Linked DNA regions of Homo sapiens: region 1 is linked to region 2. A link means that fine-mapping ties the variant in region 2 to the expression of a gene that starts in the linked region. Tissue or cell type: stomach. Region 2 holds a variant in brackets; the other region holds the start of a gene. All regions are shown on one strand. Distances are from middle to middle.

The links. PIP is the estimated chance that this variant, and not a neighbour inherited with it, causes the effect.
Region 1: it holds the start of DDX52, and the variant in region 2 is the best candidate, but not a certain one, in a credible set for the expression of DDX52 in stomach (GTEx, PIP 0.83).

Annotation. Positions count from the first base shown.
Region 1 is chr17:37,640,765-37,646,148 of GRCh38, reverse strand. DDX52 (DExD-box helicase 52) reads left to right here and starts at 2,703. Exons shown (of 15, transcript NM_007010.5): 1 at 2,703-2,815; 2 at 3,841-4,039. The coding sequence starts at 2,729. LOC105371756 (a long non-coding RNA gene) reads right to left here and starts at 3,211. Exons shown (of 2, transcript NR_188617.1): 1 at 2,613-3,211. RefSeq lists an enhancer at 4,656-5,156.
Region 2 is chr17:37,593,632-37,599,015 of GRCh38, reverse strand. SYNRG (synergin gamma) reads left to right here. Exons shown (of 22, transcript NM_007247.6): 3 at 2,672-2,793. Among named protein-coding and RNA genes, the nearest start is that of SYNRG, 13 kb to the left of the region's middle. The variant A/G (reference allele first, on the strand shown) is at 3,045.

The sequences.
Region 1 (5,384 bases), 47 kb before region 2:
CTTCTCTGCTATCCTGCTCAGCTAAATCTTTGGAAGAGTGGTTTCATCCATCTCCATTTCACCACCTTCACCAATCATCTCTATTCACCAATGTCCCTGAAACTGACATTATCAGGGGCTCTAGTGACCTCCACGTTGCCAAATGCAGTGATCTTTTCTGTCTTCAGCCTCTCAACAGCCTTTGAAATAGCTGATCACTACCTTCTTAAAACTTCTGTCTGGCTTTGGTGACACCAAATTCCTGGTCTTCCTACCTCACTGCTTGCTTTCTACTTCACTTGCTTCTTCTCAGACTCTTGTTTTACAGGTGTCTCCTCCTCCACCTCATCTCCAAGCATTAGAGTACCATAGGGTCAGTCCTGGGTCCCCTTCTCTTCTCCATTCACACATTTTCTCTAAGTGATCACATTCATGCTCATGCTTTTGGAGATGGGTTTGTTACCACTTACATAGGGATTAGGTTCTAAATCAGCTCATAAAGAAAAAAAAAATCTCATAAAGTTGAATTTTTTTTTAAATTCCCTAAGTCATCCACAAAGTATGGTAGTTGCCATTTCATACATATTAATTTTATATATGGCTATGGCCATATTTATGTGCCAAACTGAAGATCAACACACTAATATTGAGTTTTTCCTCTTATGTTGAAATAGATTAATTTTATTTATTTTTGAGACAAGGTCTCACTCTGTCACCCAGGTTGGAGTGCAGTGGTGCCGTTACAAGTCACTGCAGCTTCAACCTCCCAAGCTCAAGCAATCTTCCTGCCTCAGCCTCCCAAGTGGCTGGGACTATAGGTGTGTGCCACTACACCCAGCTAATGTTTTAATTTTTTGTAGAGATGGAGTTCCGCCATGTTGCCCCGGCTGGTTTCAAACTTCTGAGCTGAAGTAATCTGCCCACCTTGGCCTCCCAAAGTGCTAGGATTACAGGTATAAGCCACTGCGCCTGGCTGAAGATAAATTATTTTTATTGAACAACAGATGAAGTACTTGGGAAGTTCCTATTTTTAAAGAGTAGACACACTTGGGACAGGAAGACCACCCCCCGACCCACTGTAATAGGGAGTAAGGGGCTGAATTCATCTGAGAAACCGCAGATTCACCTCCCCCATCACATGCTCACCTCACACCTGCTTTCCTTGATTGTAAAGGACTCACCCATACAATTTCAAGTATGTTTCATTCTCTTTGGTCAAATACATATAACTGAATTTTTATAAGTTAAATGCTTATATGGTACAACTCCTTTGTATCATTTATATGTTGATGACTTCCAAATTAATTTCTCTAGCCCTAATTTTTGTTCCTGAGCTTCAGATTCAGAACCAACTACCTACTTGGATGTCTCCACTTAAAGTCAACTAGGTAGGCATCTTAACACGTCCAAAACATAACAATTGATTCCATCCTCCGTATCTCACTTGTACCAGAAAGCCCTTCTTCTCTCAGGCTTTCTTAGCTCAGTAAATGGCATGCCATCTACTCAGCCAAAAAACTAGGAGTGATCTTTGATTCCTCCCTTTCTCTCACCTCTGCATAAAATCCGTCAGGTACGTTTAGCTCTACCTCCAAAATACATGCCAGATCTAATCCATTTATCTCTCTCAGCACAGATACCAACCTAGACAAGCCATGATCATCATTCTACTTTGACTAACCTGTTTCCACTCTTAGCTTTTCTATGGTCCATTCTCCAAATAGCCAGTGTAATCCTTTATGAAACATCCACGCATTCATTCACCAAAGTGCACAGAAACTGGGGATACATAACGAAGCAAAGTATATCCCTGTGCTCAGGGACTTACATTCCAGAAGAGGGAGAGGCAATAAGCAGTAAATAATTTCGTACAGATGTAATAAATATAAAAAATTAAATGTGATAAACTAAATCATGTTCTTCTCTCCATAAAAATTTTCAAATAGTTTCCCAAGGTGGAAGTCCAAATTCCTTACTATGACCTTGTTACAAGATTCTGTGAGATCTGGCTTCTGTTTGTCCCTCCAACCTTATCTGTACTACTCTATCAGACTGCAACTTGGCTCTAGTCGCACCGGCATTCTTTCTATTCCCTCAAGGTTCCAATTTTTTTCCCTTCAGCCACGTGTTTCCCCTATCTGGAATGCTGTTCCCAGATCTTGGACAGGTTGCTTCCTCTTAGCTCAAGTTTTCACTTCAACAGAGTGAATTTCACTAAGTCAGCTCCCTCATCATTTTCTCTATCAATTACACCTTTTTGTTTTATAGCACTTATTACTTTACAGAGATTTTGCTTATTTATTTGTTAACAATATCTGTTGTCCCTACTAAAATGTAAGCTTCGTAAGAAGAGGAATCTTAAGATGTTGTTTACTATAGTATCCCTCAAAGTCTAGAACAGTGCCCAACATAAGAGGATACTGATAAATATTTTTTAAAAGAATTTACACACGCCTGTAGTCCCAGCAGTTTGGGAGACCGAGATGGGAGGATCACTTGAGCCCAGGAGTTCGAGGCTGCGATTGCGCCACTGCGCTCCAGCCTGGGCGACAGAGAGAGACCTTGTTTCAAAAAAAAAAAAAAAAGATAAATAATGACGGAGTACACGATAATAAAATAGCCTCGTTTCTCACCCAGCCAGGCTCCGCCTACAGGAGCCAATTATGCTCACGCCCTCTTCCGACGCTGCCCGGGGCCTGGGAAGTAGTCTGCGCAGGCGCCGTAGAACTGTGGCGCTTTCTGGGTAAAGATGGACGTCCACGATCTCTTTCGCCGGCTCGGCGCGGGGGCCAAATTCGACACGAGACGCTTCTCGGCAGACGCAGCTCGATTCCAGGTACTGTGCCCAAGGGACCGAGGGCCGAGTAACTGAGAAGGAGCAGGAGCCCGGGAATGAACCCGCTGCTGGGGGAGGCCGGCGCACTTGGACACCCGTGGCCTGGCTCTCGCCACCCTTGGGGTATTTTGCTTCCTTTTGTGTTCGGCTTGCCTGCACGGCTGCTCGGTTCAAGCCTTTTGAATAAGCTCTTTAACTATCCTGTTGTAGACCTAGTTGGGCCTGGCACGGAAACCCTCTTTCCTCCCTCTTATTCAAAGCAAAGTTGGAATCCTCCTTTCAAAAGGAACTTTTTCTCCGAACCTAGAGGAAAGGAATTTCGAAAACAGAAACAACCAAAGATGGAGAAAACAGATTCTCTTACTATAGTCTCCCCAAGTTTGGCTTGGCATGCGTATAGTTGTACTGGGCGTGATTCTTTTTATTGCTTCAACCCCATGGCTTAAGTAACCAATGAGAAGAGCGATTAAGAAATGGGGGCTCTTACCTAGAGAAGTAGTGAGTGATACATCGGGGGAGGTCAATTGGGGCCCAATTCTGGAAAATCTTGAATGTCTACTTTGTTGTTTGGATGTGTATATGCGTGTGACATGTGTTTCTTCTTTCTCTAACTGGTGAGTATGAACTCTGGAGCCAGATTATCTGGGTCTAAATGCTAAGTCTGCCAGTTACTCATTTTTAGACCTACCTCAAGTTACTTAATTTCCGAATGCCTTGGTTTTCTCATTCGTAATACTGCTATTTACCTTATAGAGTTGTAAATGTGAAGCAATTTAATATGTATAAACATGCTTAGAAATCTGCTTGACATTTAGTAAGCATATATGTGTTCATTGCTAATATTAATTTGTTACTATTATGAGGTCAGAGAAGGTCTCTTCAGATTCCATTTGTCCAGACACCTGTTAGCTCGACAGATACTTGGTGAAAGGGTAGAAAAGATGAGGAGTCATTGAACAGTCTTGCTTGAATGAAAGCAATGGTATTCTGTCAGTAGGTTTCATTTTACATTTTTTGGGTTTTAGATAGGAAAAAGGAAATATGACTTTGATTCTTCGGAGGTGCTTCAGGGACTGGACTTTTTTGGAAACAAGAAGTCTGTCCCAGGTGTGTGTGGAGCATCACAAACACATCAGAAGCCCCAAAATGGAGAGAAAAAAGAAGAGAGCCTAACTGAAAGGAAGAGGGAGCAGAGCAAGAAAAAAAGGAAGACGATGACTTCAGGTTAGTGTTTGATTTCTGTCATGTTTTTTCTCTTTAATTTTTTTCAGTTATAAAAATAATACAGGCTTATGGCTACAAGTCAGACAATAAGGTCATTTGTCAGCTGATGGCACTCAGGTTGTTTCCAGGTATTTGTCATTAGAAATATTGTTACAGCAAAGGTAATTTTAAGTAAAGATATTTATACATAAATCCTTTTGTACAGGTACTGTTATTTCTGCAGAATACCATCCGAAAAGTAGCATCATATGGTGAAAGGGTATGTACCCTTTCTCTGAAAAATACTACAAAGTGACTTCCCAAGTCCTTGTCAGTGCTGAATATTATTGGTGTTAATTTTTTTGCCAAGCTAATGAATGAAACTTTTTTTTTTTGAGACAGAGTCTCACTCTGTCTCCAGGCTGGAGTGCAGTGGCGCGATCTCGGCTCACTGCAACCTCTGCCTCCTGGGTTCAAGCAATTCTCCTGCCTCAGCCTCCTGAGTAGCTGGGACTACAGGTGCGTGTCACCACGCCTAGCTAATTTTTGTATTTTTAGTAGAGATGGGGTTTCACCATGTTGGCCACGATGGCCTGGATCACTTGACCTCGTGATCCGCCCGCTTTGGCCCCCCAAAGTGCCGGGATTACAGGCCTGAACCACCGCGCCCTGCCTGAAACAATTTTATATTTTACTGATAACTGGTGAGGTCGAGCATTTTTTTTTTTTTGAGATGAGTCTCGCTTTGTTGCCCAGTCTGTGGTGCAGTGGTGCAATCTCGGCTCACTGCAAGCTCCGCCTCCTGGGTTCACGTCATTCTCCTGCCTCAGCCTCCCAAGTACCTGGGACTACAGGTGCCTGCCACCACACCTGGCTAATTTTTTGTATTTTTAGTAGAGACCAGGTTTCATCGTGTTAGCCAGGATGGTCTCGATCTCCTGACCTTGTGATCCACCCTCCTCCGCCTCCGCCTCCGCCTCCTAAAGTGCTGGGATTACAGGCGTGAGCCACCACACCTGGCTGGTCAAGCATATTTTTGTATGCTTTACTGGACATTAATATTTCACCTTTTGTGAATTGTTTCTTCTTACTCTTTGCCCATTTTGACAGAGGTTTTTGTTTTTTTGTTGTTTGTTTGTTTGCTTTTGAGACAGAGTCTCGCTCTGTTGCCCAGGCTGGAGTGCAATGGCATGTTTTCCGCTCACTGCAACCTCTGCCTCCCAGGTTCAAGTGATTCTTCTGCCTCAGGCTCCTGAGTAGCTGGGACAGGTGTGCCCCACCACGCCTGGCTAATTTTTGTATTTTTTAGTAGAGACGGGGTTTCTCCATGTTGGTCATGCTGGTCTTGAACTCCTGACCTCGTGAT
Region 2 (5,384 bases):
GGTTTCAGGTAAGTTTTTCCAAGGCTCAGTTGTATTCTTTTCATCGTGTTCACATTTATGCATTATTTAAGCTATCTGTAATTAGATGTGTCCCAGATTGAGATCAAATGGTTTGAGATCTTTTGTTCTTTAGGAAGGTATTACAGAGTTATGTGTCCATTATCATGTTTGTTATTTTGCATTTCTATACACTTTCAAGTAAAAATATGCATATGGAGCAAAGGAACTGGACAAGAAGAGACCCCAAAGTGTTGCCTGATATTTTTTCTTAGGGAATTTGGAATTGGTTTGGAGATTTTTTTTTAACAGTTGTTAGAATGGACTTTTTGATCATTTGAAGGCTTTAAATTATGCATGGATCATTTCTGAAAACATATGTAAGAAACCGACAGCAAGGTCATGGCCACAAGATCATGAGTACTTGAACCGGAGACAGAGGAGAGAAAGAGACCTATTTTTTACTGTGTACACTTTTGTGCCTTGAAATATTATGCCAGATATCTGAGTTACCCATTCAGAAATAAAATAAAATCAGTTAAAATCAATAAAACTTTAAGTCCAAAGAAATAAGACGGAAAACATCTTACTGTGGCTATTTTCAATCTGTGTATTCTAATTCTCCCTGACACCTCGTGATCTTTGTACTTGGTGTTCTTTGGTCTGGAATATTTTTCCCAAACATCTGCATGGCTTGGTTCTTTATTTACTTGAGGTTCTTGTTGAAATACTACCCTGTTGGTAAAACTTTTTCTGATTGCCCTATGTAAAATAGCAACCACTCCATTCCCCCTTGCCCTGCTTTATTTTTTGCCCTAGCTCTTATCACCACCTGACATGTACTTATTTTTTTGTTATCTATCTCTCCTAATTACAGTGTAAGTTCCATGAGAGTGAAGACCTGGTTTTGTTCATGGCTATGTCCCTAGAACAGTGCCTAATACGGAGTAGGCTTCAAATACTTGAATAAGTGAATGGCCTACCTCTAATAACTGTTAGCCACAAATGTGGATGTCCATGCTTCTGAAATTAGGCTAGGTTATAAATAACCTGGGAGGTACACAAAAACCATAAGATAAACATGGTATAATTTCCTAGATCTTTAATTTTTCAAACTGACAGTTTGATATAAAGTTCCTTATGGTAGAACCAACATAGATGTAGTTTGAATGCAAAATTAGAATGAAATTTGTGCTCAGACTATGTAGGGATTTTGTTTTATTCACTTCTTGTGTACCAAGCACATAGAACTATGCCTAGCATATAATAAGCATTTAGTATTTATTAAAATCCCAAAGGGATGTATATTCATTCACCTCTGCTCTTGGAAAAGTTTGGGAAACACTAGCCTAAATCATACATTCGTGATAGTTTTCTGCCATTGCACATGCTGATGGCTATTTTGTGGTAACTGTTATATTACCTATTCATGTAAGAAAAAGGAAGAAGAATAACATTTCTTTGAGCATAGTAAGTATTAAACAGTTTTACAAATGATAAACCAAGGCATAGAAAGAAGCAGATTGCCCAAGGTTCCAAAATAGTATGTGTCATTTCTAGTTGGCTCCCAGAGTTCATGCTCCTAACTGTTATTTTGTTAGTTATCTGCTGTTGTGTAACAAATTATCCCAAACTTTAAAAAGTAAACATTTTATTATTTCATAGTGTGTCTCTCGGTCAGGAATCTAGGAGTAGCTCTGCTGGGTGGTTCAGGCTCAAGACCTCTTATGAGATTGCAGTGAAGATGTCAGCCAGGCTTGCAGTCATCTGAAAGTTTCATGGAGATGCTGCCGAGGTGGCTCGCTGAGATAGATGGCAAATTCATGCTGCCTTTTGGCAGAAGACCTCAGTACCTTACCACATGGATTCTCCATAGGTCTTATTGAGTATTTCATGACGTGGCAGTGGCTTGCTCCAGAGCAAGTGATCCAAAAGAACCAGGAGGAAACTACAGTGTCTTTTAAGAACTAGCCTTCAGGCCAGGCACAGTGGCTCACACCTGTAATCCCAGCACTTTGGGAGGCTGAGGCGGGTGTTGAGGTCAGGAGTTCAAGACCACCCTGGCCAAGATGGCGAAACCCCATCTCTACTAAAAAATACAAAAATTAGCTGGGCGTGGTGGCAGGCACCTGTAGTCCCAGCTACTTGGGAGGCTTGAACCCAGGAGGTGGAAGTTGCAGTGAGCTGAGATCATGCCACTGCACTCCAGCCTGGGTGACAGAGTGAGACTCTGTCTCAAAAGAAAAAAAAAATAACTAGCCTTCGAAGTTACATGCTGTCATTTCCACAGTATCCTGTTGGTTATACTGATCAGCCCCATTCAGTATGGAATGGAACAACACACGGGTATGAATACCAGGAGACAGAGGTCATTGGAGGCCATCTTGAAGGCTGAGTACCCCAATTAGGCCATACTGTTTTTTAATATGCATACAAATTCCATAGAAGAGATATTATCTTCATTTTACAGATGAAGTTTTGTAACTTGTTCAAGATCACACAGCTAAGTAAATGATGGAGTTGGAATTCATATTCACATCTGTCTCACTCAGGACCCTGTGCTTTTTCCATTACACTCTGCTTCCTGCCAAGTAACAAGTCCTTTAGGTACTTATGGTTTTAAGAAAATAAACTTTAAAACACATTGACTTTAATAATGTCTTTATATTTTCAGCAGGCCTGATGCCGATGCAGCAACAAGGATTTCCTATGGTCTCTGTCATGCAGCCTAATATGCAAGGCATTATGGGAATGAATTACAGCTCTCAGATGTCCCAAGGACCTATTGCTATGCAGGTACTTGCTTCTTTAGTTGGTTTCTTACAAAGTTATTGTTTGTTGTTACGTTTATATATCAAGAGCTACAGGCTAAGAGCTTAATGTTACAATTAGAAATAAGCATAAATAAATGGCTTCCTTCAAACTAAAATGAAGATGTGTTCACCCTCCAAGAGTGAGGGAAAAGGCTAGGTGCAGTGGCTCATGCCTGTAATCCCAGCACTTTGGGAGGCCAAGGCGGGCAGATCACTTGAGGTCAGGAGTTCGAG[A/G]CCAGCCTGGCCAACATGGTGAATCCCTGTTTCTACTAAAAATACAAAAATTACCTGGGCGTGGTGGCATGTGCCTGTAGTCCCAGCTACTCGGGAGGCTGAGGCAGGACAATCCCTTAAACCCGAGAGGTGGAGGTTGCAGTGAGCCAAGATCATGCCACTGTACTCCAGCCTGGGCAACAAAGTGAGACTCCCGTCTCAAAAAAAAAAAAAAAGGCCAGAGGAAAAAAAGGTTTTTGCTTTTGTACTATTAACAGCTATCTTGAAGGCCATATACTGTATTTCTTTTTTACCTAATACTTTACTTATTTTTGCTTTTTTCAACTTATATTTTAGATTCAGGGGGCACGTTTGTAGGTTTGTTACACTAATATGTTGTGTGATGCTGAGGGTTGGGGTATGATGGAACCCATCACCCAGGTAGTGAGCATAGTACCAACAGGTAGTTTTTCAACCCTTCCCCCACTTTCTCCCGTCTTGTAGTCTCCAATGTCTGTCGAGCCTGTCTTTATGTCCATGTGCACCCAGTGTTTAGCTCCCACTTGTGAGAACATGCAGTATTTGGTTTTTTGTTTCTGCGTTAGTTTACTTATTTACCTAATACTTTAACATTTTCTATTTCTGTGTGTTTTGTTATACAGTATATACTTTTATACAGTAACACATGTATATAACTTATAAATAAGTGATATTAGGACTTCATGACCAGAATTTTAAGTTGAAACCATTGTTGTTTTGAAGTCGATTATGCAAATAAAGCTTCTGTTTTGTGTTTAAAGGGTCAGGAAAACTTCCAGTGTCATTTTTTATCTGTCTCTAGAAGGAAGGGAATACATTGAAATTGTGTAGGTTTTTAATTCATGTTAAGCTAGCTTTCACTAGGGTGTGCTGCAGAAACAGTCCCCAGATCTCAGTGACTTAGAAAAGTTTATTCCTCACTCGTGATACATATCCTTATGGGTTAGTGCTGACTCTGCTCCATGTTTTCTTTATCCTAAGACCCTCAGCCAGGACATCCTAGGCTCTTGGCATAGGAAAAAGAGATGGCCAAACCCTGTGATGTCTTTTAAAGCTAACACTTGGAGGTAGCATTTATTAGTCACTTCTGCTCACCAAAGTAATGTGGCCTTAACATCAATAGGGGAGGAATATACCAGGACGAATGTAAACCACATAGGGATGTGTAGTTCTCTTAGAATAAAGGTAGCAAATGGCTGGGAGCAGTGGCTCACACCTGTAATCCCAGCACTTTGGGAGGCTGAGGTGGGCAGATCATGAGTTCAGGAGATCGAGACCAGCCTGACCAACATGGTGAAACCTCGTCTCTACTAAAAATACAAAAATTAGCCGGGCGTGGTGGTGCATGCCTGTAATCCCAGCTACTCAGGAGGCTGAGCAGGAGAATCGCTTGAACCCAGGAGGCAGAGGTTGCAGTGAGCTGAGATTGCGCCACTGCACTCCCGCCTGGGCGACAGAGTGAGATTCCATCTCAAAAAAAAAAAAAAAAAAGAAGAAGAAAGGCAGCAAATAACTAAAAACAATCTACCATAGAATACAATGTATTTTAAATTAAGACTTCCTAAGCTTAATACTGAATCTTAATAACAATTGATACAAATTTTAAATCATTAATTTTTATTTTAATATTAAATATTAATTAAAATAATTAATATTGTAATTAATATAATTAAAATTAATATTATTGTAATTAATATAATTAAAATAATTAATATTGTAATTAATATAATTAAAATAATTAATATTGTAATTAATATAATTAAAATAATTAATATTGTAATTAATATAATTAAAATAATATTCATAAACATTATTTTATGACTTACACAATTATCTGAAAAATGTTTTTAGAGTTTGAAACAACCAAAAACAGTAAGAGTCTCTAATATGCAGAACAATAAGAAAAAAGTAAACTATGAGAGTTGTTAGTACCTTAATAATGTCCCTGAATATCAGAAGCTTGTGTATTAATGATTCTAAGACAAAGCAGCCAAAGTCTTTTTCTTTAACCTTTAATCTTGCTGACAGGCATTATACTGTTTGGAAGCTGCTCACCATTTTTTTTTTTTTTTTTTGAGAGGGAGTTTTGTTGCCCAGGCTGGAGTGCAATGGCACGATCTCGGCTCACTGCAACCTCCGCCTCCCAGGTTCAAGCGATTCTCCTGCCTCAGCCTCCCAAGTAGCTGGTATTACAGGCATGTGCCACCACGCCCGGCTAATTTTGTATTTTTAGTAGAGATGGGGTTTCGCCATGTTGACCAGGCTGGTTTCAAACCCCTGACCTCAGGTGATCTGCCTGCCTCGGCCTCCCGAAGTGCTGGG